3 separate regions of the Homo sapiens genome follow, and regions 1 and 2 are each linked to region 3. The links come from fine-mapping of genetic effects on gene expression. A gene starts in region 3. Each other region holds a variant in brackets. All regions are shown on one strand. Distances are from middle to middle.

Evidence for each region. PIP is the estimated chance that this variant, and not a neighbour inherited with it, causes the effect.
Region 1: its variant is fine-mapped to the expression of IQANK1 in cerebellar hemisphere (GTEx, PIP above 0.99).
Region 2: its variant is fine-mapped to the expression of IQANK1 in nucleus accumbens (GTEx, PIP above 0.99).

Annotation. Positions count from the first base shown.
Region 1 is chr8:143,765,719-143,775,718 of GRCh38, reverse strand. IQANK1 (IQ motif and ankyrin repeat containing 1) reads right to left here. Exons shown (of 14, transcript NM_001381874.1): 4 at 4,101-4,231; 5 at 3,754-3,918; 6 at 3,476-3,667; 7 at 3,237-3,362. Among named protein-coding and RNA genes, the nearest start is that of IQANK1, 37 kb to the right of the region's middle. RefSeq lists an enhancer at 4,935-5,608. The variant C/A (reference allele first, on the strand shown) is at 5,324.
Region 2 is chr8:143,673,189-143,683,188 of GRCh38, reverse strand. No RefSeq gene overlaps it. Among named protein-coding and RNA genes, the nearest start is that of ZNF707, 6.3 kb to the left of the region's middle. RefSeq lists a silencer at 910-1,135. The variant A/G (reference allele first, on the strand shown) is at 5,595.
Region 3 is chr8:143,729,149-143,739,148 of GRCh38, reverse strand. It overlaps IQANK1 (IQ motif and ankyrin repeat containing 1), which reads right to left and starts at 5,010. Exons shown (of 14, transcript NM_001381874.1): 1 at 4,930-5,010; 2 at 3,211-3,299. The coding sequence starts at 3,295. FAM83H (family with sequence similarity 83 member H) reads left to right here and starts at 5,370. Exons shown (of 5, transcript NM_198488.5): 1 at 5,370-5,458; 2 at 8,552-9,013; 3 at 9,826-9,990. The coding sequence starts at 8,567. MIR4664 (microRNA 4664) reads left to right here and starts at 5,996; the gene lies at 5,996-6,066. RefSeq lists enhancers at 519-1,384, 6,136-6,430 and a silencer at 6,307-6,517.

The DNA of each region.
Region 1 (10,000 bases), 37 kb before region 3:
GCGATCTCAGCTCACTGCAACTTCTGCCTCCTGAGTTCAAGCACTTCTCCTCTCTCAGCCTCCTAAGTAGCTGGGATTAGAGGTGCCCACCACCACGCCCAGCAGCTAATTTTTGTATTTTTAGTAGAGATGGGGTTTCACCATGTTGGCCAGGCTGGTCTCAAACTCCTGACCTTGTGATCTGCCCGCCTCGGCCTCCCACAGTGCTGGGATGACAGGTGTGAGCCACCCCGCCCGGCCTCAGCTATAATAACTTTTAATGTTCTTGTCTACTAATTCCATCTCCTGTGTCATCCCTGAGTCTGTTTTCATTGATTTTTCTCTTCACTCTGGGTCATTTTTCGTGTGTGTGTGTGTGTGTGTCTGTGTGTGTGTGTGTGTGTAGCATGCCTGGCAATTTAACTAAATTTTTATTTTGAATTTTTATTTTGATTTACATGAAGTTACAAAAATAGTAGAGTTCCCATATACCCTTAACAAGCTCCCCCAATGATGACTTCTTACATAATTACGGTACAACATACAAACTAGGATACTGACATAGTACAATCTACAGGGCTCACAGTGGATTTCAACTATTTCACATCTACTCGTGTGTGTGTGTGTATCATTACAATTTTCTCACATGTGCAGTTTTGCGTTACGACCATCGTAATCAAGATACAAGACTGTCTCATCACCTCAAGGGTCTCTTGTGCTACTCCTGCCCAGTCGGCCCCATCTCTCCCCGCTTTTCCTGCCCCCACTCCCATCCGTAACCCCTGCAGCCCTCCGATCTGTCCTCCGTCTCCACAGTGTTGTCATGTGAGTGTGTGTGACCTTCTCCCCCACTCTGTGAAGCTCCCTTCCGGTTTCTCCACGTTGCTAGTTGTTGCATGGATCATGTGTGCACACCGTTTTATTGCCAAGCGTGTTTCGTGGCAGGAATGCACCAAGCTAGTGGAGCCACTCGCCTGCTGGAGGACATCTGAGTCGTTTCCACTTTTTGGCTATTGTAAATAAAGCTGCTGTGAACATCTGTGTACACATTTTTGTGTGGACCTAGTTTTCCTTTTACTGGAGCAAATGTCTAGGAGTCTGATGCTGTGTTACATGGTAAATGTGTTCACTTTTTAAGAAACCGCCTGCCTATTTGCAAGAGCGGCTGTACTGGTGCTGCGTCCCCCCAGCAAGGTGTGGCAGGGCCAGCTTCCCCACATCCCTGCCCTCGTTCGGCTCCAGCTCTAGTTTGACCTGGGCTGTCCTGGGAGGTGTGAGGTGGTGTGCAACACCTCCTCGGGTGTTCATCTGCCATCATTAGATCCTCTTTGGTGAAATTTCTCTTCATGTCTTTGCTCATTTTATACCTAGATTGTATGTTTCATTGTTGTTTGCGATGTGAGTTTTTTCTATGTTCTAGGTACACGTGCCTTGCCAGATGCGTGGTTCACAAACGTTTGCTCCTGCCTGTGGCTTCTTTTCTTCTTGACAGGTCTTTTACAAAGCAAACATTTTACATTCTGATGAAGTTCTGTTTATCAATGTGGTTTTTTTTTTTTTTTGGATTGTGCTTTTTGTGTCATGTCCAAGAATCCCTCCAAGTCCTAGGCCCCAAAGATTTTTCTCCTATGTGTTCTAAAAGTTTTGTAATTTTACCCTTTACATTTAAATCTATAATCCACTTTGAGTTCATTTTTTATAGGTGTGTGCTTCAGGTCCACACTAACCCCTTTGCCTGTGGATGGCCAATGCTCCAGCACCATGGAGTGAACACACAGTCCCCTGGCACCCAAGGGCTCCCCCAGCACCCCCAGCTGCTGCCCTTCTCAGCTCTCCGGGCCACCATGCCCCAGGCAGCAGGTCTGCTGGACACCCCAGCACCCCTGACTCCCACTTGCACCTCTGGACGCCTCACCGTATCCTCAGCCCCTCCCTAAGCCCACCGCCTCGGCCCTGCCCCTCCCCTCCAGCCCAGGAAGAAGGACCCTTTGCAGACAAGGAGAAAGAAGAGAGGGGCAGGACAGGCTCCCAGGCAGCACCTACAGGAGGAGAGTCTGGGGGTGGGTCCCTAGCTGGGCAAAGACTCTGGCAGCAGTCCAGTGGATGCATCTCCCAGGTGTCTGCCGTGGGCCAGAGGCAGAACCCAGACTCCAGGCAGCACCTCCAGATTTGTGTGGGATGTGGGGTGAGGTTAGGGGTGGGGTGGGGGAACATAATGACTGAGATGGGAGAGGGACTGGGGTTCAAATTAAGTTGATTTAAATGAAACTAAGGTAGGCGAGGTTCGTGGTCTGGTTTTCCAGCCACTGCTCCAACAGGCGGAGTCAGCCTCACCCCACCCCACTCCTGGGCCTGGGACAAGTCCAGGCATTGTGTCTCCAGCCTGGCCCAGGGCAGACTCTGTTTTTTTTGTGTTTTTTTTGTTTTTTTTTTTTTTTTGAGTCTCACTCTGTTGCCCAGGCTGGAGTGCAGTGGCGCCATCTTGGCTCGCTGCAACCTCTGCCTCCCAGGTTCAAACGATTCTCCTGCCTCAGCCTCCCAAGTAGCTGGGACTACAGGCGTGCGCCACGACGCCCAGCTAATTTTTGTATCTTCAGTAGAGATGGTGTTTCACCATGTTGGCCAGGATGGTCTCAAACTCCTGAGCTCAAGTGATCCACCCGCCTCAGTCTCCCAAAAGTGCTGAGATTACAGGTGTGAGCCATCACGCCCGGCCAGACAGCCAGACTGTCCTTTCTAACATAGCTCAAAGGCTCTAGAAAGGAGCTCTGTGGCTGGGCTGTGTGGCTCAAGTTCTCTGGAAAACCGACGTACTGACAGTGAGGGGACCGATGGGTGGGCCCCGTGCTGCCCCCAGCGCCGTGAGCTCTGCCAACCCTGGAATCGCCAGCCTCAGTTTCTCCATCAGTAACACCACTTCCTCAGGCAAAGCACGGAAGGAAATGACACAAAACCCGACACCAAAGGCATTCACAAAATGGGAGTCGCTGCCACTTCCACTGCAGACTGACGAGGTTTTAAAGTCAGGACTTCCAGGAAGGGAATGGCGCACGGCGGGGCTAGGAAACCGCTCTAGCAGGCCACTCAGGCTTCTGACAGCTTTCAGAGACAGCCGGTCGGGTGAGCCTTCCCTGCCTGGGTGTGCACCTGCCAGACTCACACCTCCCGGTACCCACACCTCCCGGGGCTCACACCTCCCGAGGCCCACACCTCCCGGGGCTCACACCTCCCGGGGCCCACACCTCTGGGGTCCACACCCGCTCAGGGGTGCTCCCGTCCTCTGCGTACACCCGGGGGTCTGCTCCGAGCTTCAGGAGCACCTCCACAGCTGCCAGGTGGCCCCCAAAGGCTGCACGGTACAGCGGCGTCGGACCGAAAGCGCCCTGCAAGACGGGCCCCCCGAGCAAGATCCAGGCCTTGCCCCTGGGGGAAGGAGGCCCCTGAGGGCCCTGGACCGCGCCCCTCAGCGCGGCGGCCCGCGGCCCACGGCGCCCACCTTGCTGTTGGGGCTGGCGCCGAGCTCGGCCCGCAGCTGGATGGCCAGGGGCTGCCCGCCTGCGGCCGCCTCCGACAGCGGCGTGTTCCCGTAGCTGTCCTCGCACTCCGCCAGAGCCACGCGTCGCTGCAGCCGCCGCGCCTCGCCTGCCTCGTCGTGGCCCACGCCCTCGCGCGTCAGCAGCTGCTCCACCTGCGCAGCTCGCCGCGGTCACCGCTCCCCGCTCCTCCCACTCCCACCCCACCCCCCGCCCTCGTCCTCCTCCCGCCCCCGCTGACCTCCTTCAGCACCGCCCGGATCTCGCCCACGTCCCCGTCGAAGGCGGCGTCCAGCAGGCGGCGGCGACGCTGCAGCTCCTCCCGCCGCTCCCGCTGCGCCGCCTCCTCCTGCTCGCGCAGCCGCCGCGCGGCCTCCTGCTCCCGGCGCACCGGAGCCAGGTAGGCCTGGGAGGCGCCCGCCGAAGTCACCGCCCACTCCGCGCCACCGCCCCGAGCCCCGAGGCCACGGTCCACGCCTCTGAGGTCGGAGCCCGATCTGAGCCTCACCCCCACCACGCACCCTGCTTCGCCATTTCCTCCCCCTGCCTCCTGCCTGGCCCCCGGCTGTTGCGGCTGCCCGTCCTCACCTCCTTCTGCGGCGTCTCCATCTGCTCCAGGTACTCCCGGCGCTCCTCCCGGCGGCGGGCGAGCTCCCTCCTGGCCCGGAGCTGCCGGAAGGCGCCCTGGATCGCTCTGGCCGCTCGGTCCTCGGCCGGCCCTGGGGTGGGGAGAGGCTCACGGGGGCGCGTTCTCGCCTCCAGCCACGCCTGCTGCGCCCCTGGGAGTGGAGCCGGCCCCGCCCCCGCCCCCGCCCCGACAGAAGGACCCAAACGGCTCTCAAAGCCCCCAGCGCGGCCGAGCCGGGGTTCCCGCCCGCAGAGGCCGCACGAGGAGGCTGCGCGAGAGCCCGGGACGCGGAGAGGACCCAGGTCTGCGGGAACCTCCCCCGCCCCACGCCGCCGGGGATCCTGCGAGCCCCGCCGAGCCCGCAGCTCGGGAGCCCCGAGGAACGGTGAGGAAGGGGTGCTGTCCCCCGCGGGACACCCTTCCCTGAAAGCCGAAGGCCCCTCCTGCATCCAGGCCCCAGCGAGCGAAGGCTGGACTGAGCGGGGGGGCCCCAGGCCTGGGAGGGCTCATCACAGCCCCGCTGGACTCAGAAGAGGGCGCGGAGCCCAGGGCCCCAGAGGGAGCTCTGTCCTCTCCGGCTCGGCCTCGCCCTCGCCCCACCGCGGCTGCAACGGAGCGCTGAGCCCGAGCCTGGAGCCGCCTCGCAGTGAGGAGGGGGCGGAGGAGAGGGCGTCGGGCTCAGCGCTGCCCTGACTGGCCTGGGGAAGTCCGGGCACCACTCAGCCTCCCCGGCCTGAGCCCCTTGCTCTAACGTGGAACGATACCTGCAGCTTTCTAAGAGTCCAGCAATGGGGCGCTTGTGGCGCTTCCGCCACAGTGAACGCTCAGCGTGCGCCCCGTGGGTGTGACTTGTGCCAGGGCACGGGTGGCCAGGCGAGGCTGTCGGGCCACGCGGGTACCCAGCAGGGAGCCACGGGAGCGCAGGCCAGAAGCAAGCAGGCAGCGCAGCTGGGTCTCCACAGGTGCGCCCGCTGGGGAGCCAAGTACTATGATTCCCACAACCAAGCTCCCAGGGAGCATGGGCAGAATGGCGGGATGAGGCGAGACTGGGAGACGCGGAAGACCCTGCAGGCCCAGGGCACGGACCGGAGCAGCCAGCGGGGGCAGGGTGGAGAGCTGAGCCCATGTGGGAAAATCACAGCGAAGGAGAATAAAGGGAGAGGCGCCGTCAGGAGGGCGGGAC[C/A]CCGAGTGGCAGTGGACAGAGATAATACAGTCATAAGAATAACGTGCGTCTAGGATGCAGAGACTGACAATGCAAGCAAAGAGCAAACACTCAAGATAAAACCCAGGAAATCCTGAAATGAATCTTAAGACAAAAGGGGGAAAAATCCCAGAAAACAAAGGGCATGAACAACAGGCATCAGACACAATTCGCTGAAGTTAAGCCTCAAAACAAAATGTTTTTCAAGCACCCGAGGAGAAAGAGCAAAGCACCTATGACAGGAAAGTCCGGCTCTCCTGAGGCTTTTTTCTTTTTGAGACAGGGTCTCACTCTGTCACCCAGGATGCAGCACAGTGGCACAATCTCTGCTCACTGCTGCTTCCACTTCCCCGGTTCCGGCAATCCTCCCACCTCAGCCTCCGAGTAGCTGGGACCACAGGCACACGCCTGTGCACCACGGCCACCTCCGAAGGCTTTTTACAGAAACACTAAATGTTAGAAGAAAATGAAGCAGTGTCCACAAAATTCTGCAGGGAAAACAGTAGGCCAGGAAGAGTATTTGGTTCTGCAGCACAGATGGCAGGGCAGGAGGTGCAGCCTTCCCAGTGACAGCAAGAGAGAAGACAGACGAAATCAAAGTGTTTTTTAAACAAGTGTCTGACGGCATTCAAAGCTACTGAGGAAATGAAGAACGAGGTCTCCAAAACAGTGCAGCAGGGTGGTCCCAACACCAGGCAGGTGGGCCTGGCCTGGCCCAGAGCAAAGGGTCAGCTGCTCAGCAGAGGACGGGCCAAGGGACAGACCTGCATTTAGAGCACTGGGTATGGCTTGGGTTTAGGGTTGCCAGATTTAGCTAATAAACAGGATGCAATTTGGGGGACATACACTAAGTAAATTATTCCTGTTTATCTGAAATTCAAATTTAGGCCAAGCGCAGTGGCCTTGTAATCCCAGCACATTGGGAGGCTGAGATGGGAGGATTGCTTGAGCCCAGGAGTTTGAGGCCAGCCTGGACAACGTGGTGAGACCCTGTCTCTCTTTAAAAAAATATATATAGGGCCAAGTGCAATGGCTCACATCTGTAATCCCAACACTTTGGGAGGCTAAGGTGGGAGGACCACTTGAGCCCAGAAGTTCAAGACCAGCCTGGGCCACGTAGGGAGACCCCTGTCTCTACAAATAACTAAAAATTAGCTGGGTGCAGTGGCGTGCATCTGTAGTCCCGGTTACTCAGGAGGCTGAGATGGGAAGATGGCTTGAGCCCAGGTCAATGCTGCAGTGAGCCATGATCATGCCACTGCACTCCAGCCTGGACAACAGAGCGAGACCCTGTCTCAGTAAAATATATATATTTTTATATTATACATATAGAATATGTATATATGAGAAATTCAAATTTAAATGGATGTCCCGGATTTTGGGAGCCCTGTTTCATCTGGTAGCCCTATTTGGGTCAGAATCACAACCTTCACGAAATAAAATAACCCTGATGGTAACAGGGGCCCAGCTCCAAAGAGTGACAGCAAACAGTCAAAGTCATCTTCATTTGCAGATGATGCACATAAAAATCCAGAAGAACTCATCACAAATGATTATCATCAATAAGCAATCTTGGGAAGGTTCTGAATATAACCTCATACTCACAAAGTGTATTTCTGTACACAAGCAGCAACAGAAAAATTTAATATATTTAGCATCAAAAAACTATCATATACTTGGATTAAGCCCACAAAATAAACGTCAGTGAGTCCACAGTGATACAAATAAAGGATTAAAAACACACTAGAGGGAGTGGAGGGAAAGTAGAATCCCATCAATGGGTGTAGGAGGGGGCAGGGAAGGAGCAGATTCCCATCGGGCACACAAGAAGTGCAGCGGCTGCAGCTGACAGCCACCGACGTATGTCCGCCGGCGCACGTTTCAGTGGGCAGGGGTTTGAAGAGAAGCAGAATTTCTCTTGTCTCAATATATCTCTTCCAAGATAAGTATCAACCACGAAAGGAAAACATAGTACATTTACAAAGGAGAAACCTGGCGGAAACCCCCCCACTAAGTGATCGAGGGCAACGTCACAAGCAGTGAGACATTCGCGGAAACCCTCCTACTAAGTGATCGAGGGCAACGTCACAAGCGGTGAGACGTTCCCGCACCGTAAGCCCCATGACATGATGTACGTCAAAAACACAACATCATTTCTGCTTTATTTTATTTTTAATTTTTAGAAACAGAGCCTCAGCCGGACACAGTGGCTCACACCTGTAACCCCAGCACTTTGGGAGTCCGAGGCAGGTGGGTCACCTGATGTCAGGAGTTTGAGACCAACCTGGCCGACATGGTGAAACCCCGTCTCTACTAAAAGTACAAAAATTAGCTGGGTGTGGTGGCGGCGCCTGTAATCCAGCTACAGGGGAGGCTGAGGCAGGAAGAATCACTTGAACCCGGGAGGAGGAGCTTGCAGTGAGCCAAGATTGAGCCACTGCACTCCAGCCTGGGCGACAGAGCGAGACTCTGTCTCACAAAAAAAAAAAAAAAAAAAAAAGGTCTCGCTCCATCGTCCAGGCTGGAGTGCAGTGGCTCCATCTTGGCTCACTGCAAGCTCCGCCTCCCGGGTTCACGCCATTCTCCTGCCTCAGCCTCCTGAGTAGCCAAGACCACAGGTATACACCACCACACTCAGATTCATTCTTCAAAAGTGTCAAGGTCGTGAAAGAAAAGTCATGACTATAGGAACAGTTACAGACTACAGGTAACTATGCAGAAACAGCAAATAAATGCAATATGGCATCCTGGAAAAACTGGTGAAATTTGAGAAGGTCTTTAGTTAATGGTTTTATGCTAGTGTTGATTTCCTGGTTCTGTTCCTTGTACTGTCTCTATGTAAGATGTTAATCTTAGAGGAAGCTGGGTAAGTTACACATCTATGGAAAATCCCCATACTAATTCTGTTACTTTTCTGCAAGACCAAAACTACTTGAAAATAAAAAAGTAAACAATTGTCAAATACTAGGATTAAATCTGACAAAGATACACACAAGATCTCTATACACATGAGCAAACACACACACACACACTCATAAAACATTTCTGAAGAGCACTAAGACAAAACAGAAAACAAAAGGAGAGATATACCATATTCATAGATTGAGTGGACACTGCTGTAGAGGTGATACTCTCCGCACATTGAGCTATAGGTTCAACGAAATCCTAATGAAGTTCACCCAGCAGGGCTGTTTTGCTTTGTTTGTGTGAAAATTGACCACGTGATTCTGGAATGTATCTGCGAAAGAGCCAAGAATGGCAAATAATTCAAAGAAGAATTCGGTGAGAGGACTTGCTTTTCTTGATATTAGGACCTCATGTCGGTGAAGACAGTGCGATGTTCTCACACGGAGACCAGTGGCCGTGGGTTCAGAAACAGCCCCCGGGCATATGGGCACTTCCTGGCCAGGGGGCCTACAGAGCCGTGGGAAAGAATAGAGATTTCAGTCAGTGGTGGGGTCCAATCAGAAACCCGTATGAGGAGAGGGAGGACAGGTGTCTGCTACTTTACCCCATTCACAACAGGCAATTCCAGATGGACTGGTGATCGCACCGGAAGGCAAAACCATAAAGCTCGTTGAAGATCACATGGGAGAACAGCTTCAGGAACTTGGAGTTGGAAAGATTTATTTCAGAGACCACCACAAAAAATACCCAAAAGAAAACATGTTAAAATCAGTACGTTCTTTTTTTTTTCTTTTTTTCGTGAGACAGAATCTCGCACCGTCACGTAGGCTGGAGTGCAGTGACTCGATCCTGGCTCACTGCAACCTCCACCTCCCGGGTTCAAGCGATTCTCCTGCCTCAGCCTCCCAGGTAGCTGGGATTACAAGTGCCCACCACCACGCCTGGCTAATTTTTGTATTTTTAGTAGAGATGGGGTTTCACCATGTTGGCCAGGCTGGTCTTGAACTCCTGACCTCAGGTGATCCACCCACCTCAGCCTCCCAAAGTGCTGAGATTACAGGCATGAGCCACCATGCCCAGCAAAAATCAGTTAGTTCTATTCACGAGAAGACACCATTGAAAGTAAAAATGCCAGTGAGTGGGAGAAGGTATTTGCAATCCATGTAACTGACAAAAGGTTTGTATTCCGAATATATTGGGAAATACTACAAAGCCGTAAGAAAAAAGGCAGCAGCACAATAGAGAACTAGTAACATACCTGAATGCACACAAGAGCCTACCCAGGTGGCCAATAAATATATGGAAATGTGATGAATCTCATTAGTCACCAGGGAAATCCAATCTAAAACCTCACCTAATACCACGCACACCGGCTAGAGAGAGGCTGCTACTACCCACGGGAGGCTTGCAGAACACCGGTCCCTACACTGCTGTGGGGAGGGAAATCAGAACACCCACGTCAGCAGACGGCTTGGCACACCTGTGCCTTAGCAACCTTTCTCCCAGGTGTGTGCCCCCAAAAATGCATGGATGTGTGCACCAGGAGACACGTGCAAGAAAATCCATGCTAGTGTTATTTTTAAAACCAAAATCTACAAATAATCCAAATGTCTACCAGCAGTAGAATGAATCAGTAATGTTATATGCACATAACAGACACCTAAACAGCCATGAACATGAACCACAGCTACATAAAACAAAGGATGACTTTTAAAATATGTACTTTATATACCACAAAGGAAAAGACGACTA
Region 2 (10,000 bases), 56 kb after region 3:
CTTATTCTAACTATTTTCTTTATTATACTGAAACAGTTTGTGCCTTCAGTCTCTTGCCTAGGCACCTATGTAATACTCCACCCACACAAGGGTGGCCAACTGTTCAAACCTAGACACGCCTTTCTATAGATTCCAGGTCTTAGGTAATCACTTAACTTATTCAACCAATTGCCAATCAGAAAATCTTTGAATCCACCTATGACCTGAAAGCATCCAAAGTATAGCCAAGAAATATATTTAAAAGTAAAATAGGCCGGGCACGGTGGCTCCCGCCTGTAATCTCAGCACTTTGGGAGGCCGAGGCGGGTGGATCACGAGGTCAGGAGATCGAGACCATCCTGGCTAACATGGTGAAACCCGTCTCTACTAAAAATACAACAAATTAGCCGGGCATGGTGGCGGGCGCCTGTAGTCCCAGCTACTCGGGAGGCTGAGGCAGGAGAACGGTGTGAAACCCAGAGGCGGAGCTTGCAGTGAGCCGAGATCGCGCCACTCCATTCCAGCCTGGGCGACAGAGTGAGACTCCGTCTCAAAAAAAAAAAAAAAAAAAGAGTAAAATATTTTGATTTCCTTTATCTGTCATGTGACGTTATGCTAGAGTCAGGTTGGAAACTAAGCCAATTATATAGGGTTAAATAAAACCTATCTGATGACATTTTATGGTTTGTAGGGCAGACTCCCCAGGCCCTTTAGATAAGAACTTGAGCAAGAGAGAAAAAGATCAGTTTAGTCCTCACTAGTAAAGGAGTGATAGCGACAGGAGGCAGGCAGCCAAATGCCCAGCCAAATGGGGGCAGGTCCCCAGTGAAACCTCCACCTCGACGCTGAAAACAGCTTAAAGCCTGAAAGCCAAGCTGCAAGTCGAATCCTCAGACCGGATTGAGAGCCTGTCTTCCTGTCTGGCGCACTTTCCTCTGATTGGTCCCACCCTTCACCTATTTTACATATACCTACCCTTTTCTAATTGGCTTTCTACACTGTCATGCCCACCTTTCAGTGGTGCCTTTGCTTTAACCTTTTTTGCATTACTCACAAACCAATCAGCACGCCCTCCCCATTCTGAGTCCATAACATGGGGAACTTTCCTGCCTTCATGTAGGGGGACCACGCCATGTCCCCTCTCCACTGAAAGCTGCCCCGTCACCCAGTGAAATTCCCCGCCTTGCTCACTCTTCGATTGTCAGAGCCTCCTCATTCTTCTTGGCCGTGGACAAGCATTCGGGAACTCGGGGGAGTTGACGGGCTGTCTCCTGCAGCAGGTAGTGTGTCAAGCGAGGCCCTGGCGGGGCGTCGCTGGCCGGAGGTCCCTGGCTTGCAGAATGACTGAGAACAACATCCTATGTCAATAGGAATGTCTTCAAAATTGTTAGTTACATATAATTTAATACTTGTTGATTTGCTGTTACTTATGTTTTTGGTTTTGAGCCTCTGGAATCGGGGCTGGACAGGTGGCCATGGTGAGGTCTGGGGACAAGTTCTCAGTGCCTCGACCAGCAGCTCCCAAGCAGAATCCAGCCCCATGTGGTCCCCTTTCGCCAGTTTTGCCTCCTGGCTATTCTGGGAGAGGTTGGATCCTCCAGGCATTGCCTTCACAGCTCTGTCTTCTGTCCTGAGCTCTAACCTAGGATGTAACTTCGGGCCTCAGACAGCCTTGACAGCCTCCCTGGGTGCCACATGGCTACTTGAGACCCAGCAGGCCTGGGAAAGACTGTAGGGAGGGCACCTGTGTCATAGCTTCATGCAGGGAGCCGAAGGCCCGTGGGACGTGACCAACTCAGCATTCCGCTGGAGGCTCTATGATCAAACAGCAAACTGTTTACCATGAATGCAGGATGTGGGTGAACTCACACTGCCCTGCCACCAAAAGGTTTGCTGAGGGCCTCGCTCCCTGGCTCTGGGCTCCTTGAAGTTATCTATTGAGAAATACTCTATTGTCCAAAGGATGCAGCCTGTTCAAGGCCGACTGACAATTACCCGACAATCACCCCCCTTTTCTCACTATCTCTTTTGCCTAATAGATACGGAGGGCTGTGTAAAGCTCAGGGCCCTTGTCCACTAGAGGCAAGGTGCCCCCTGACGCCCTCTTCCAAATATACTCTTTTGTCTCTTGTCTTTATTCCCGAGTTCGCCCCCTTTGTTCAGTCCCCTTAGGTCCGTGCAGGTTACAAGTGGCGCCCCGATCAGCGATAGAATCGGGTGCTCAACACTTTCAAAACTGTTTTTTTTTTTCGGATGGAGTCTGACTCTGTTGCTCAGGCTGGAGTGCAGTGGTGCAATCTCGGCTCACTGCAAGCTCCACCTCCTGGGTTCAAGTGATTCTCCAGCCTCAGCCTCCCGAGTAGCTGGGACTACAGGGGCCCGCCACCATGCCCAGCTAATTTTTTGTATGTTTTGTAGAGACAGGGTTTCACCATGTTGGCTAAGCTGGTCTCGAACCCCTGACCTCAGTTGATCTGCCTGCCTTGGTCTCCCAAAGTGCTGGGATTACAGACGTGAGCCACTGTGCCCGGCCAAGACCCCATCTCTTAAAACATTGGGAAGAAAAAAATCTATAATATTATAAAAGCTGTATGGGCCAGGTGCGGTGGCTCATGCCTATAATCCCAGCACTTTGGGAGGCCGAGGCGGGCAGATCATAGGTCAGGAGTTCGAGGCCAGTCTGGCCAACAGGGTGAAACTCCATCTCTACTAAAAATACAAAAAATAGCCGGGCGTGGTGGTGCGTGCCTATAGTCCCAGCTACTCAGGAGGCTGAGGCAGAAGAATTGCTTGAACCCAGGAGGCAGAGGTTGCCGTGAGCTTGTAGCAGGACAAGATGCAGACAAAACTCTCAGACACCAAGTCAAAGAAGGAAGGAGTTTATTTGGCCGAGAGCATTGGCAAGACTCCTGTCTCAAGAGCCGAGCTCCCTGAGTGAGCAATTCCTGTCCCTTTTAAGAGCTCACAACTCTAAGGGGGTCCGCGTGAGAGGGTCGTGATCAATTGAGCAAGCAGGGGGTACGTGACTGGGGGCTGCATGCACTGGTAATCAGAACGGAACAGAACGGGACAGGGATTTTTACAATGTCTGGAATCTATAGGTAACACAACCGGTTAGGTCAGGGGTCAGTCTTTAACTACCAGGCCCAGGGTGCGGCGCCGGGCTGTCTACCTGTAGATTTCATTTCTGCCTTTTAGCTTTTACTTCTTCTTTCTTTGGAGGCAGAAATTGGGCATAAGAGGATATGAGGGGCAGTCTCCTCCCTTATTCCCCCTCTTTGAGACTCTCACTCATTTTATTAGTGGGAGTTCTCACCTTCTTCCTCACTAGCTATGTCTTCCTGCATGACAGAGCGATAGTGATTCATGAAGTACACTTGTGCTGAAGCATTCTTTTTTTTTTTTTTTTTTTTTTTTTTTTTGAGACGGAGTCTTGCTCTGTCGCCCAGGCTGGAGTGCAGGGGCGCGATCTCGGCTCACTGCAAGCTCCGCCTCCCGGGTTCACGCCATTCTCCTGCCTCAGCCTCCTGAGTACCTGGGACTACAGGCGCCCGCCACCATGCCCAGCTAATTTTTTTTTTTTGTATTTTTAGTAGAGACGGGGTTTCACCGCGTTAGCCAGGATGGTCTCGATCTCCTGACCTCATGATCCGCCTGCCTCAGCCTCCCAAAAAGCTGGGATTACAGGCGTGAGCCACCGCGCTCGGCTGTGCTGAAGCATTCTGGTGAACTAGAGTAGTGATGAAACCTTTTACCATTTGAAGGAGTACAGGTAGTAAACAACGGATCAGTAAGCAGGTTCTTATTACTACTGTAATTTTTATTATAAGAGTTTTAAATCCTCTTAGCGCTGGGAACCATTTTCAAACATGGCCTCAGGATCAAATCCGTGCCACGCTTGTACAGGCACATGTGCCAGTTTCGTCATGTCTTTAACTGTATCTTCAACTACTTGCCCCGATCATGTATGTGCAGGCAGCAATTGGTAAGGTTCAATTTCCCACAGACTTCTCCTTCAGCTGCTAGCAAGTAGTCGAGAGTCAATTTATTTTGATAGATAGCATTTCTCATCTGAGTTTCTTGCCGGGCCAGAATAGTCAAGGCTCTGCCGGTCCTATTAGTGATTATTTCTAAGACAGCTTGTAACCGTATGATTTGGTTGAGCATGTAGATGGGGGTCCGGTATCCCCACAAGCCATCTTGTGCCCAAGTAGCAGGCCTATAATATTCCATCATTCTCTCAGGGGGCCATTTATTATCTTTCTTATTTTTTTATAGCTATGCTTCTCTTTTCGCGGGAAACATAGGGAAGCCCAGGAGTTCACCTGTCTTTATAGGCAGTAGGAAGAAAGATGGTTTAATAGTGCCAATCACACAACTGCCTGCCCACTGGTCGGGTAATTTGGTGTAAGGCCTATGCCCACACATTCAGTATAATCCAGTGGGGGCTGTCCAGTCTCGGTGGGACTCCGGATGGGTCCACACGGTTTGCAACTTTGGGAATTTACTAAATGGATTTTTCTTAGTATGGTTTGAACTCCACTAGGTGGCTGTTTTTGTAGTACCATTATACAGTTTTTGCCTAAGGCAGCTGAGTCGTCCTACAGGAAGGGTGAAGTCCTTCCTTACTCTTTTTTTTTTTTTTTTTTTTTTGAGACGGAGTCTTGCTCTGTCACCCAGGCTGGAGTGCAGTGGCGTGATCTCAGCTCACTACAAGCTCTGCCTCCCGGGTTCACGCCATTCTCCTGCCTCAGCCTCCCGAGCAGCTGGGACTACAGGCGCCCGCCACCACGCCTGGCTAATTTTTTATATTTTTAGTAGAGACGGGGTTTCACCGTGTTAGCCAGGATGGTCTCCATCTCCTGACCTTGTGATCCGCCCGCCTCGGCCTCCCAAAGTGCTGGGATTACAGGCGTGAGCCACCGCGCCCGGCCCCTTACTCTTGCTATACAGTATTGTCTAGTGATTGAGGCTTTTAGGACCCGGAAGTTATCAGGGTGATTTTTCTGAGCCAGGAATTCGTCAGGAACTGGGTCTGTAGGTACTAATTCTTGGGCTTCCCGTGGCCATTGGTCTTTTATTATAGTTCCTCCACACACATAGCATGAAGTGACATTGAGAGACTGGGCTACATGGTCAGCTAATTGCAAACAAATTTCTTATTTTTCCTGGAATTTCTGGTGCTGGCACATTCAGTTCATCATAGAAGGTTTGAAATACTGGCTCAGGAGAGCGTTTATAAACTTCTCCTCAAACCACAATATTTACTTGAAGATCCAGTCCAGCCCCATGAATTTCTAGGGTTATGGCCGGGCACGGTAGCTCACGCCTGTAATCCCAGCACTTTGGGAGGCAGAGGCGGGCGGATCACGAGGTCAGGAGATCGAGACCATCCTGGCTAACACGGTGAAACCCCATCTCTACTAAAAATACAAAAAATTAGCCGGGTGTGGTGGCGGGCACCTGTAGTCCCAGCTACTCAGGAGGCTGAGGCAGGAGAATGGCGTGAACCCGGGAGGCAGAGCTCGCAGTGAGCCGAGATCGCTCCACTGCACTCCAGCCTGGGTGACAGACCGAGACTCCATCTCAAAAAAAAAAAAAAATTCTAGGGTTAC[A/G]CATTTCCTTTTTTTCCAGCGAGGATTAAGGGGGTTGGTTATTACTAGTTCTAAGGGGTTACACTGACCACTGGTATAGGAAGGGCCACTTTTCCTTTTCTGAAGGTGGACAGAATTTTTTTCATTTTTTATCCAAGTAGCCTAAATGACACAAGACCAGTAACTACATTCATTTCCACACAGTCCTAACTCATGATAAATGTACTTATTTTCTGCCATACAGCCTCTTTCCTAATGAAGAGAACCACATCCTATTCCTAACTTATTAGTATTAATGACAGCACAGGCATCACACTTCAAGGTGACTTGTTTGGGCACCTCTTTTTGTTTGTTTTTTTTGGCTAACACTTTACTCATATTGTTTATGAGCCCCCACCAGTCTTTAATTCTTAATCTTATTTGAAAAACTGTGGTCATGGGAGGCTCAGATGGGTCATAACACACATCAGGTTGGTCATTTCCTGGGCACATACCTTGTATAGAATAACATTATACAAACAAGTTCTTTTTAGAGTTCCAGTACACTTATAATAACCGTAAAATAATGGGACTGTAGCAACATTTTGTCCTCCCTCAGTGACTTGATGTATACACTAGGAACAGTCCTCAGTCTGAGGAGGGTGAGTTGAAGTCCTTACTGTACAAGTCCAAATTTTAAGGAAAACGAGTCCTGCGATGAGTTTCCTCATGCTTCGGCCGTGCATGGACCAGTCAGCTTCTGGGCGTGACTGGAGCAGGGCTTGTCGTCTTCCTCAGAGTCACTTTGCAGGGGTTGGCGAAGCTGCTGCTATCCACGTACTGCTCACAGTCTACTGATGTTCAAGGATGGTCTCGGAGGTTGCGCCTGCTAGAATAAACTGAGTCCAACACCTCTACACAGTTATGTTCAACTGGGCTCCCCGATACCGGGAGCAAGGTGCTGGGGTTTAGGGTGTTGCAAACTGCAGTGGTTATGTGGGGATTTTCACACAGCAAGCTTTGGTACTTGGTTAATCTAGCATTTGTTAGCCAATGATGTCCTTTGGGATTCATCAAAGTTACCACAGCATGGGGGGCCTTTATATTCAGGTTTTGTCCAAGAGTTAGTTTATCTGCTTCTTGTGCTAACAGGGCCGTTGCTGCCGGGGCCCTTAGACACGGGGGCCAGGCTTTGGAAACCCCCTATAGTTGTTTAGAGAGATAGGCCACTGCCCTTAGCCAGGGCCCCACAGTCTAGGTTAAAACTCCAAATGCCATTTTTTCTCTTTCTGACACATAGAGTGTAAAAGGTTTTGTCACGTCAGGTAGACTCAGGGCTGGGGCCAACAGGAGTTTTTCTTTTAACTCATGAAAAGCTTGTTGCTGTTGGTTGTAATAGATGTAGTTTATCTAATCTACACTTTTATTAACTGTCACCTACTAAAATATTGACGTAAATCCTATAGCTATTTGATTTCAAGCTTTAATTGATCTGGTGTTCCTTGAGGGGCCCCAACTGCATCCAAATAGACGTGAGAGTTGAAAGACCCATAAGGGGCTTCTCTCGCTTTATGACGTCTTATTTTTTCTCCCTCTGGTTGATGAAATGCCAGGGTGAAAGGGATAGCCAAACGGACTAAAGCACAAGTGCCATTCCAGTTATTCAGCAGAGTGCCCAGTAAAGGTCCACCACAATACCACCACACATCCGCACAGGGATGAACAAGGGCTGACTGATTGATAAGCTCTCGAAAATTCTTAAGCTCATCGCATCCCTTCAGGTCTCCAAGGAATGCTGTTTCCTCCCTGTCGTGAGAGACACGAAGTGAACTTAGTGTTGGGAGACAGAAGCTGGATGGCCCTTGCGGGCTGACCCACAGGGTGCTGGATTTCGGGATATAGCAGAGAGAGCTTGGCACGTCTTGTTACTGCAGGCTGTAGAATCCTGGAAAAGAGCTACTATGCAGCCACGCCTGGTCGACTGGCGACCACCTTAGTGGAGGGGGACAATCTGGGCCTCTGGCCTGCCATGTGCACAAGCGTAACAGTTGCTTTTGTTTAATGTGTAGATGGAATATTTGATCCATTTTAACCAGGCATTTGCACCTTGGTATCCTGTCCTAATTGTTAAAGTTTGTTTTAAGTCTTTAACTTCTATGATCCTCTAGTATTCTCCATTCCCCTCTTCTGCAGCCCTAGAAACCACCGTTCTACTTTGTTTCTATGAATCTGGCTACTGTGGATACCTCGTAGAAATGGAATCACACACAGTATTGGTCCTCTTGTGACTGATTATCTCACTCAGCACAATGTCCTCAAGGTTCATCCCTCTTGAAGCGTGTGTCAGAATTGACTTCTTCTTTAAGGCTAATATTCTGCTGTGTGTCCATACCACATTCGGTGTATCCATTTGTCCATTGACGGACTCTTGAGCCGCTGGGAATGGTGCTGCTGTGAACGTAGGGGTGCAAACGTCTGCGTGAGTGCCTGCTTTCACAGCTCTGGGAATATGCCCAGAAGTGGAATGGCCAGGTCACAAGGTCACTCCAGGCACCACACGCCGAGGACCCGCCGGTCACTCCAGGCACCACACGCCGAGGACCCGACGTCACTCCAGGCACCACACGCCGAGGACCCGCCATGCTGCTCTCCTTAGGAGGTGTACTATGTACTATTTTACATTCCAAACAGCAGCACACAGGGTTCTAGCTTCTCCACAGCCTTGCCAATACCTGTTATTTTTCTGTTTTAAGTTGTTTCTGTTTTGTGTTTGTTTTGTTATTTTAATTGTTTGCCATCCTAATGGGTGTGAGGTGGTATCTCATTGTGGCTTTGATTTGCAGTTCTCTAAGAATGAGTGGTGTGAACATCCTCTCATGTGCTTATTGGGCCATTCTTTTCTTTACTTTTTTTTTTTTTTTTTTGAGACGGAGTCTCACTTTGTCGCCCAGGCTGGAGTACAGTGGCGTGATCTCAGCTCACTACAACTTCCACCTCCTGGGTTCAAGCAATTCTCCTGCCTCAGCCTCCCGAGTAGCTGGGATTACAGGCACCCACCACCACGCCCCGCTAATTTCGTATTTTTAGTAGAGACAAGGGTTTATCCATGTTGGTCAGGCTGGTCTCGAACTCCCAACCTCAGGTGATCCGCCCACCTTGGCCTCCCAAAGTGCTAGGATTAGAGGTGTGAGCTACCACGCCCAGCCTATTGGGCCATTCTTGGGAGAGAGGTCTAATTAGTCCTTTGCCTATTTTTGAATCAGGTTGTTTTTGGGGAGTCGTTTTCTGGAGTGTTCCATGGTAAGTAGGTCTATGTAAACCTGTCTCCAAAGTCCGAGGAAGCTGAGAGGTCAAAGAAAAAGGCTAACAAACCCAGTTTCTTAGAAAGAAACACTTAACAGGGACTTAGAAAAAGAAGCCATGTCTGTCTTGGCAGCGGCAAGAGGAGATACTGGATCCCACCATTGCCCCCGCCCAGGGCTTGTGTACCACGGGGAGGGTTGGGAGGGAAGTGCAGGACAATGGGCGGCATCAGGGCCGTCTGACCCTGCGGCAGGGTTTATAGCAAGTGCCTGCCCTTACACAAGGAACAACAGATCACCTGGAAACGTCGGAGGCCTTCCCTGGACGGGTTAGTCGAAAGCCCACACAATAGTCACCATCCAGGCTGGAGCGGCTTTGGCCTCCACAAGGAGTTCCTTCGATATTTTGGATATGAGTCCCTCATCGGACACGTGATTTGCAGATATTCTCCCGTTCTGTGGGGAAGGGGCAGCTTTTCACTCTTTTAGGAGTGTCCTTTGATGAACAAAAGGCTTTAATTTTCACGAAGCCATTTGGCTGTTTGTTGTTGTTGCCTGTACCTTTGGTGTCCAAGGAATCATTGCCAAACCCAGTGTGTGTCAAAAGCTTCTGCTCCCAGTTTCTAACAAGAGTTTACTGTTTCAGGTCTTGCATCCAGATCTTTGATCCATTTTTACTTTTTATTTTACTTTATTTACTTATTTTTTTGAGACAGTCTTGCTCTGTTGCCCAGGCTGGAGTGCAGTGGCGTGATCTCGGCTCACTGCAACCTCTGCCTCCCGGGTTTAAGGGATTCTCCCACCTCGGTCTCCCAAGTAGCTGGGATTTCAGGTGTGCACCACCACACCTGGCTAATTTTTTTTTGTATTTTTAGTAGAGACAGGGTTTCACCATGTTGGCCAGGCTGGTCTCGAACTCCCGACCTCAGGTGATCCACTCTCCTCAGCCTCCCAAAGTGCTGGGATTACAGGTACAAGCGGTGCAAGCCACGGTGCCCAGCATGATCCATTTCTAGTTAATTTTTGTATGTGGTACTGACGAGGGTCCAACTTCATTCTCTTGCATGTATCACACTTTCCCAGCAACAGCCACTGTAACCTCTACCTCGTGGGCTGAAGCCATCCTCCCGCCTGAGCCCACCACGT
Region 3 (10,000 bases):
GTCAGGCCCTTGTTGCAGTGCAGTGCAGGACAGCCAGCCCCCAGCCAGGATGGCACCAAGAGCCCCCGCCCCACCTCCATGACCGCCAGGACTTTCCTCGGGGCCCCACATCAGTTCACAAAGTGCCACGCAGGGCTTTGAGGGCCCAGTCTCTCCAGCCAGCCGCAGTGCAGTGGCCCGAACCCTGCCCTAGCTCCCACCGGGTCCCTGGGTCCTTTGTCTCCACCAAACCCCAGCGGGGCTCCTGTGGGCGTGCTAGCTGCCCTGGAGCCCTCCAGAGTGCATGGGCTGCGGGTTCCCATGGCCAGCTGGGCTCAGGTTGTCTGTGGCCAGGGAGGGTCTGGGCCCTGAGGGTCAGTGCGACCAGGATGCAGCTCCTGGCCCTGTGGCCTGCAGTTTGAGTTTCCCTCGACCAGCTGTGGGACCGGGGGAGCCGGGATGGGGCGGGGGCGGGGGGCATTGGTGCCGCCCAGGGCAGGACCAGGCACGCCCGTTGCTGCGCACAGCAGGCACTCTGGCTGCTGCGCTGCCTCCTCCAGCTTCTCAGCCTCCCTCCCAGTCTCGCCGGCAGGGCCCGTGGCCTGTAAAGCCCCGTGCCGCCGTGTCAGCGCGTTAGTCAGCCTCTCAGCCCAGGCGAGCCACCGCGCCGTGGAGTCCCTATAAACTCCCTGGCGTGGCCTGGCCCCACCGAGTGGGGTCAGTGAGGCCCATAGGCAGAGCCAGAGTCCCGAGCTGCGGTGCTGCGGGCTCCAGCAAGGGGCAGGACCTGGAACAGGGGGCCAAGCCTGGCGTGGGAGCACACGGCCACTGTAGCCTCCAGGGACGCCCTCTGAGCTGGCCTGAGGCCGGCTGGTCCATGAGCCAGGGCCCCTGGGGAGCAGACACCTGGTGAAGGAGGCGCTGGATCCAGGGCCATGTCTGGGAAACGAAGTCGAGTTCGCAAACCCCGGGCCAGGAGGGCAGGCAGGGCCCAGCCGGCAGCTGGGCAGCAGGGCCCTGAGGTCGAGCCCCCGCCCCCCACCCCAGGGGGCCCTCAGGGTGAAGCGGGGGTGGCCCCTACAGGGCACGTGACCAGCATCGAGCCAGCACCTCAGGGACACCCCAGGGTGGCCAGGCCAGAGCAGCCACAGGCAGCCTCGAGACCGGTGCCGGCCACTGCTCCGGGGTCTGAGCTGGTGCTGGTCCTTGCTGGGCACATGGAAGGCTGTGGAGCAGGGGACCCCATGCCGGCCCTGGGCCCCGAACTGCTGAGGCTCCATGAGGTCCAGCTGTGCCTGGCCCAGGAGCAGCTGCTGCTGGAGGACCGGTGGCGGCAGGTCCAGCTGCAGATGCAGCTGTGGCGGGAGGAGCAGCTATGGCTGCAGCAGCTACAGGAGGAGCAGCTGTGGCTGCAGCAGCTACAGGAGGAGCAGGCCTGGGTACACGTGGAGGGGCTGCAGCTGGCCGTGGCCCTGGAGCAGCTCCGGAGTGAGGGCTTCGAAGCACTGCAGACCCAAGGCCAGGTAAGGCCTGGATGGGGTGGCGGGAGGGGTCCCGGACTGTTGTGTTGGTGCGGTGGCCACTGCAGCAACCTAGGGATGCCTGTGGAGGCCCAGGAAGCCAGGCTGGATGCAGGGTATCTGTGGGCCCATCTTCACATCTGCCAAGTGAAGCCGGTGCCCGCCACACAGGGCACTGCAAGACCAAGGGACAGCAAGCCTGCCCAGGCTGGCCCAATGCTTGGTGGAAATGGGCACTGAGGGCAGATACTTGTTCAGGGACAGAGGTGTCCCTGCAGCAGACCCAGGCATGCTGGGCCAGAGCCGTCCAGGGCAGTGTATGGGCTGCGGTGCAGGGCGAAGGCCTGGGTGTGCAGTCAGTAGGTAGCAGAACTGAAGAGCACAGCCCCCACCCCTGCAACCCAGTTTCCTGGCTGCCTTGCTGGTCCACCTGCCCTGCCCCCCGTTTATTGGAGTGCAGTGTACTCAGGGCTAGAGATTGCGGAAGCAGCATGCGGCACCTGTGCCCATTATCCTCATTCCAGGAGGGCGGCTGGCCTCAGACGCAGCTGGGGCTATTTTGGGGAACTAGGATCTAACCCCAGCCTGGCGTGGAGGAGCGGTCACCATCATCCCACCTGCTCCTGTGAATCTGGGAGCTCTCTGGCAACCAGGGGTGTTAGGCCAGGCCCACTCTAAGCAGAGGGGCAGTCTGGGGAGCAGGATGGGGTGCTCTCTTAGCAAGCACAGACCCCAGTGCAGGCCTGGGTGCTGAAGGACCCCAGATTTGCAACCTGGAATGTGTTCACAGCCAGCATAGAGAATAAATGGGAGCTGGAGCAAGGGAGTGACAACAGTGAAGGCGGGGCTGGGGTGGGGGAGGGTACTGGGGGAAGTCTCCTTCCTGACCCACAGGAAAACCCAGCCCAGGTGAGCTGTCACCATCCAACCTGGAAGTGACTATGGAGAAGGTGACTGGGAGCAAAGCCGCAGGCAGAGGGCAGCACAGGATGGCCCAGATGGAGCAGAGAGTCAGAGAACACATGCTTAGACTGAGAATCCCCAACTTGGACTCAAACCCTCCTGTTTCAAAACCCATTTTTGGCCATCTAGGCGCCTCCCACTGGCTCCTGCCCCCTTCCCACCTCCATGTGTTCCAAAGCTGGGCTTCTCTGAGTGCTACCCCTAGGCCCCCACCCCAACCCCAGGGGTATAAGATTCAGGCTTGGCCGGGCATGTGGCTCAAGCCTGTAATCCCAGCACTTTGAGAGGCCGAGGCGGGCGGATCACCTGAGGTCAGGAATTCAAGACCAGCCTGGTCAATGTGGCGAAACCCCGTCTCTACTAAAACAAAAATACAAAAATCAGCAGGGCGTGGTGGCGCACGTCCATAATCCCAGCTACTCGGGAGGCTGAAGCACAAGACTCACTTGGACCCAGGAGGCGGAGGTTGCAGTGAGGAGGGATTGCGCCATTGCACTCGACTGGGTGACAAGAGCGAGACTCCGTCTCAAAAAAAAAAAAAAAAATAGATTCAGGCTCAAGGTCTGAGATGAATGAATGGGCTCTGAACCCTCAGTCAATCACACCTAATCCCAACTCAGAGGTCCCCTAAAAGCCACTCTTGGAAGAAGGGCTCTCCTCAGAGGGGGTGTCTCTCGGTGGCTACATAGAAGGTCTCACAGGTCAGTGTCTGGGTGACAGTGCTCTGGAGGTCAGAGGGTGCACTTACCAGCAGCAGCTCTTGTCTTGGGCCCAGGGTGGAGCGTCTGCCACTTCCCAGCTGCAGCTTTGGGTCTCCCCTTCTTACTGTCCATTCTCCTGGGGGGTGGGTAGGGAAGGACCAGGGAGAGGGTGCTCAGAGTGGCAGAGGGCAGGGGCAGTGGCAGTGGGGAACAGGGCACACCATGGGCGCCTGAGTGGATGACAGCAGGAACATGGGCTCCCCTGAGGCTTCCCAGCTGGTGTCCTGTCTGCCTGCCCGCCCCGGGTGTGTGCCCAGAAGCTTGAGCCGGGATGCCTGGCAAGAGCACTTGGCCACCTCCCGTCCCCCTGGCCGTGGCTTGCCTGCCCCTCCGCCCCAGGCTCAGCCCATCCTGCCGGGCGCAGGATCTGGAGTCTAGCACTCTTCTCCCTGCCCCAAGCTGCTGGGTTGCCAGTGGGCCGGTCTTTGTTCTCACCGTAATCATGAGCATGGCCCTCTCTGCTGAAGCCTCCATGCCTCTCCACTGCCCTGGGAAGCCAGCCCACCCCTGAGCCTGCTCCCCAGCCCACCCAAGGCACTCACCCCTCCACACCCTCAGACCTTATGTGGTCCCGGCTCTGGCAGATGGTGGTGTCAGGCCCTGGAGCAACACCCCTCTCCCTAGTCCACACAGCTGACCCCCAAGTTCATTTCCCTGGGAGGCTCCTCCTGCCTGCCCCAGCCTGTCCGGGTCCTCCCCGGTGCCCCATGCCCCTCACCCGCTGCAGCACAGTTGCCTGGGCACTGGTCTGACCCCCCACCCATGTTTCCAGCATGCTGGTACCAGTGGGGTGGCACTGAGTGTTTGGGGAAAGAACAAATGAAACTGGGACTGACCCTGAAAACAGAAAATAGGATCACATGGCAAGAGGAACAAAGAGAAAGGCGACTGATGACCATCAGAAAGGGTTGAGGCAGGGCCAGTCCTTGGGGTGGGAGTGGCAGGGGCGAGGGGTGGTGGTTTGGACAGATGATCCAGTGTAGGGCAGGGCCTAAGAGGGGGAGGGGCCCTAAGTGAGGGCCTGAGGGGGACCTGGGGGACTGGAGCACCCAGGGGCAGCTCGGGGTGGTGTGTGGGGGTTGCTGTGTACATGGGGGGGCGTCTGGTATGAGGCTTGGTGTGCACACTGGGTCCCTTGTCCGTTGGGGCTTGGTTTTTGCAGAGTCCCTGTGTGTACACAGGGTTCCGTATGTGAGGGAGGTCCCCTGTGCTCTCAGAGTCAGTGTGAATATGGCATCCCCTGTTTGTGTGTGGGGTTGGTGTCTGAGAAATCTCATATGCAGGTGGGGTTCCCTAGGTGTGCGGATGTCAGCGTGTTCGTGGGTGACTGGCATGGGCAGGACTCGGTGTGCTTGTGGCTTCTGTCTTCCTGAGGAGTCTCCTGTGCTTGGGGGTTGGTGTACATGAGGCACAGGTCATTCGGGGTCCGCATGTGCATGGGGGGGTCACTGCGGCAGAGTCCCCTACAAGTGTGGGCATCGGTGTGAGGGGGTGAGGGAGAAAGATGGGGGACCCCAGGTACTTGTGGGCATCAGTGTGTGTGGTGGGGGTTGGGGTCTGGGGGTCCTCTGTGTGGGCGGGGTCCTCGTCTACGTGTGGGGCGCTGGTGCGGTGGGAGACCGGTGTGTGGTGAGGGGATCCCCTGTGCTCTCGGGGCTCCCAGACCCGGCCCCGCCCGGGGCTCGACGCCGCCCCACCGTCCTCACCTGTCGCACCTGCCTCCCCCAACTCGGCGAGGAGGCCAGAGCTCCGCCCCTGGCGTCGGGCTCGCTCGTTTCCTAGCGACTGAGCCGGAACTTCCGAGTCACCCCGACTTCCGGGGCGAGGGTCAGGGGTCAGGCTGGGAACTTTGAGCCTTGGGTCAACAGTTGGGCTCCCGGGGGTCGGGGTCTTTGAAGTGCGGGCCTCACGGTCTCCGGCGGCGCTGGGCCGGGGTCTCCGGGCGCGCGGCCGCAGGGCACGGGCGGGTCGGGGCGCGGGCCGGGGGCGCGGGCTGGGGCTGGCGGCGGGCGCGGGGCGCAGGAATGCGGGCGCGCCGCGGGTGGGGCTGCCCCGCCCCCAGGTGCTGCCCGGGCAGGCAGGAGGCAGGAGCGACGGGCGGGGCGGGGGCGGGCGCGTGAATCAGGCCGGGCGGGCCGCGGCAGGGAGTGGCTGCCGGACCGACCGGACCGCGAGGCCGCTGGGCGGCGGTCGGCTCCTGCTGCCCCTGTGCCGAGACCCCGCGCACCTGGCCAGGTAGGGCCCCCCTCCCCCGGCCCGAGCGGGGCGGGGCGAGGCGGGGGGCGGGCGCCCCTTGGCGCGGTCCCACTTGGGCTACCCTTGCGCCCACACCTGGGCCGGGGCCGCGCGACCCAGAGAGGGGCGGTGGGAGTGGAGCGCGGCCGCGTGCGCGGGGCCGGGGTGGCGGGGCTGCTCGGACAGGGGGCGCCGCTGTGCGGATATGGACGCGAGCGCCCCCGCACGACGCCGGCCCGAAAAGAGCCGAGGGGGAAGGGGCCCGGGATCCGGGTCGAGCCTGCCCGGCCGTCCCGACTCGCTCCCGCCCTCGCGGCCTAGCTGGAGTCTGGGTGCTGGGCACGGCCTGGACCCTTCCCTGGGGACATCCGCCCGGGCCGCCGTGGACTGGGGTGGCCAGGGTGCGGCCTGGATCCCCGCGTGGCGAGCAGGGCGAGTGATGGGAGTGCTGCCCCTCGCGCCCACGTTCCTGGGCTGGGGTGGGCGGATAGGGCACCCAGCGGCCGCAGCCGCGAGCTCGTAGGGTGCACTGACCCCGTTGGGGGCTGGGGTGCCCACTCCGCAAGTTATCACTGAGCGACTTCCGGTCTGTGAGCCCCGTCCTCCGCACCCCACCTTTCCGCCGCCTAGAGCCTCCGCGCCCTCCTGCGCCCATCGGAACTTGGCACAGGTTCACCCCACTTTGTGTAGGAACTCCAGATCCTTCCATGGGGTCCTCCTTCCAGATACTCAGGAACCCCACTTCCTGCCAGGGTGGAGAGGATGGGGTCCTTGAAGGCCAGCTGAGGGCCCTGACTTCGAGTCAGAGGTCAGGGGTCAGCAAGCAGAAGAGTGGATTCGTGCTGAGTCATTGCCCATGGGTGGGTTCCGCGCCCTCCCTCCCTTGGGCAGACGTTTGGTAGGCAAATGTGTGGGCATGCAGGCCACTGGGGTGCTCCATCTTGGGCTCGGGAGTGGCTGCAGCCCCGTCCATAGCCCAGGAGACACGTACCCATGAAAGGAGACGACGTGAGGAATGAAGCAGTTGGAGGTCTGGGCATCACCCTGTGAGGACGAGGCATGTCTGCTGGGAGGGCTCCTGGCCACGGGGGCTTCCACTGTCTGGATGGTCCCTGCCCCCATTACACACAGCCTGGAGCCTGGACACTGAAATCCAAAGGGACAGTGGGGGTCCTTTCTAGAGTGTCCCCCCAGTGTCGGGAAGTACCCTCAAACAACATCAGCAGGGTTGTTCCCCCTGCCCTGTATGGTCAGACACCGCCCCTACAGACAGGCTGGCAATGGTGAGTGGGCTCCTCGGCCCAGCCAGACAGGCCTACACCTCACCCCCATGTGGTTGGCCTCGATCTGCCCCTGGCACAACCAGAGCGGTGTGCCCTAACCAGCCCCATATGTCAACCATGAGGACGGTGCCCCAACAAAGAAATGTTGGGACAGCTTCTCCCAAGCCGGTTGGCATCTAGGGCTGTTGAGTGGCACCAGGTATTTCCCATGTCTCAACTCCATGTCACCCCCAGGGGCACCAGGCAGGACGGCTGCCTCCTGACCCCAACATTCTCAGCCAAGTGGCTCCGGCTAGCACCCATGTAGTCCAGCTGGCCGGCATCCATCCTGTCAGCGCCCAGGGGCACGCTCCTCTGGGCACCTTCCTAGCCAGGGCCAACATTCAGGAACCTGTGTGCTAGGCGGGGACAGGTGTCCTGCCTCCCTCCCCAACCCGAGGAGCAGTGGGATGGACTGAGCAGTCCCTAGGGCTCTCCTTCCAGGGAGAGGTACCCAGGTAGCTCAGTGACCCTGTGTGCGTGGGCCCTGGGCGCTCCCCATCTGACACCTTTCTGGAGAGGCCAGGCCCCCGCAGGGACCCTTTGGAGAACAGAGTGGGCTGTGGGGCAGCCAAGCATGGATGGTGGTGGCGAGCCCAGGACCTGGAAAGGTCCCTGCTGCCCTGGATGGGGGCTGGTGGGGACAGGACTCTGAGCAAGTGGAGAGCCAGATTTGGGCGATGTGGAGTGCAGGCCCTGCAGGGCCCTGTGGGCACCAAGGGGCTGTGGCCCAGGGAGGTTTTATCTGAGAGGGACAGTGACAAGAAAGAGGTCAAAGGTAGGCCAAGGGAAGGAGGGGGTGCTGGGAGACAGGGACGGAGTCTAGGGATCAGTGTTCCAGGACTGGGCGGTCATAGAATGGGCTGTGGGAGCCCAATTGTGAAACCCTGAGGATGGGGAGGAGGTGTGGCCCGGGACTATGTGTGGGGCTTAAGGTTGCCATTCCAGGAGGAGGGTAGTCACAGCCCTGTTTGCTGCGCTCACCTTGGGCTAGGCGTGGTGTCATGTGGACCCTCAGCTGTGTTGTGCAGTAGAGGTAGGCCAGAGAGGTGCAGTGACCTACCCACAGTCTCCCAGGCAGTCAGAGACGGACACATGGGCAGCATGGGCGGCACCAGCTTGTCCAGTAGGCACAGTGCCAGGGGTCCGTGAATGTCTTAAAATAAGAAAAAAGTGAATATTATAATGATGAATGCAGCCTGGATTGTTTGTCTTTAAGCCAACAGTCATGAAATATTTGGGGGGGGGGGTTCGTTTTATTTTTATTTTTTGTAGTGATGTGGTCTCACTCTGTCACCCAGGCAGGAGTGCAGTGTCACAATCATAATTCACAGCAGCCTCCAACTCCTGGGCTCAAACAATCCTTCTGTCTCAGCTTCCCAAGTGCCTGGGACTATGTGTGCACGCCACCATGCCTGCCTAATGTTTAAAATTTTTTGTAGAGATGGGGTCTTGCTGTGTTGCCCAGGCTGGTTTCAAACTCCTGGCTTCAAGCAGTCCTCCTGCCTCAGCCTCCCAGAGAAAGGAGAGACAGGGCTGGGATACCTGTGCCCCAGCCCTCTGCCAGTGTCCCCTCAGCTAGGGGCATCCTAGGGTCTGGGTTGCTCTCTGTGAGCCTGGTTCGGCTGGTGCCCTGGAAGGCCTCCTGGGCATGGGCTAAACTCCAGCCTACCCAAGTCACTGACGGCCCTTTCCACAGTGTGTCCATGCTCGAGGGTAGGAGTGGTCCCAGTGCCCCCACCCCTAGTCATGTGTCTCCCTGCCCCTCCAGGCCCCTGGCCCCAACATGGCCCGTCGCTCTCAGAGCTCCTCGCAGGGGGACAACCCACTGGCACCCGGGTACCTGCCGCCTCACTACAAAGAGTACTACCGCCTGGCGGTGGATGCACTGGCCGAGGGTGGCTCGGAGGCCTACAGCCGCTTCCTCGCTACCGAGGGGGCACCAGACTTCCTGTGCCCTGAAGAGCTGGAACATGTGAGCCGACACCTTCGGCCTCCGCAGTATGTTACCCGAGAGCCACCTGAAGGCAGCCTTCTCGACGTGGACATGGATGGCTCCTCGGGTACATACTGGCCAGTGAACTCAGACCAGGCCGTGCCTGAGCTTGATTTGGGCTGGCCTCTGACCTTCGGCTTCCAGGGCACCGAGGTGACCACCTTGGTGCAGCCACCGCCCCCCGACAGCCCCAGTATCAAGGATGAGGCCCGCAGGATGATCCGTTCCGCCCAGCAGGTGCGCCATCTTGGGCTTGAGGGTAGTGGGGGAGGGGCCTGGGCTAGAGGCACGGGGGTGGAGGAGATGCATGAGCATGATCAGCTTGAGGGGTGAGCCTGAGCTCCAGCTGGAGTGGGGGTCCCTGGCAAAGATCTTCAGGGCTGCCAGGTCTCGGTCATCAGGGGCTGCAGGCTCTGCACAGGTCTGCTTGCCTGTGGTCATGGCCAGTGCCCAGAAACTCGGGGGCTCTGGGGATGGGTGGGCACCCCACCAGCCTGGGTTCATTGTTCAGATAATTACCTCTCATCCTGCCCGGTGGCCCTTGGCCAGCTGAGGGCTTCTAACCATCACCAAACAGCTAGCAGACGGCGGAAGGTGCTGTTAAACCATAGCGACTGAGGCATGAGGTCCAGACGCTAAAGGCTTGTGACTTTCTCCCCTGCCCAGGGCAACAACCCCGTCCCAGGGCAGAACTGGAGCCTGGCACTTGGCCCTGACAGCTGCCCTGGAATGGGGGCAGCTCAGCCGTCTGTAGGGTGGAGGGGATTGAGGGGCCCTTGCCGTGCCCCAACCTGGCCCACCCTCATCCAGGGTTCTCTGCCCTGCACCTGCCTCGGTTTCCCCCTTATGGCCAGCCGTTCCACACCTCTTCTGTTTGGTCCCTTCTTCCTGCCCATCTTCCCAGATGTGGCGCCAACTCCCTAGGATGGACTAGCTTGTTTCACAGTGGTCGTGGGTGATCCAGACACCTCCCGGGTGTGGAGGGGAGGCTGGACAATGGTGTGGGGACAGCAGGGGCCTCTCCTCTCCGTCCTGACCCGCCCCTGCAGGTGGTGGCCGTGGTGATGGACATGTTCACTGATGTGGACCTGCTCAGCGAAGTGCTGGAGGCCGCGGCCCGTCGGGTCCCAGTCTACATCCTGCTGGATGAGATGAACGCGCAGCACTTCCTGGACATGGCCGACAAGTGCCGTGTCAACCTGCAGCACGTGGATGTGAGTTCCC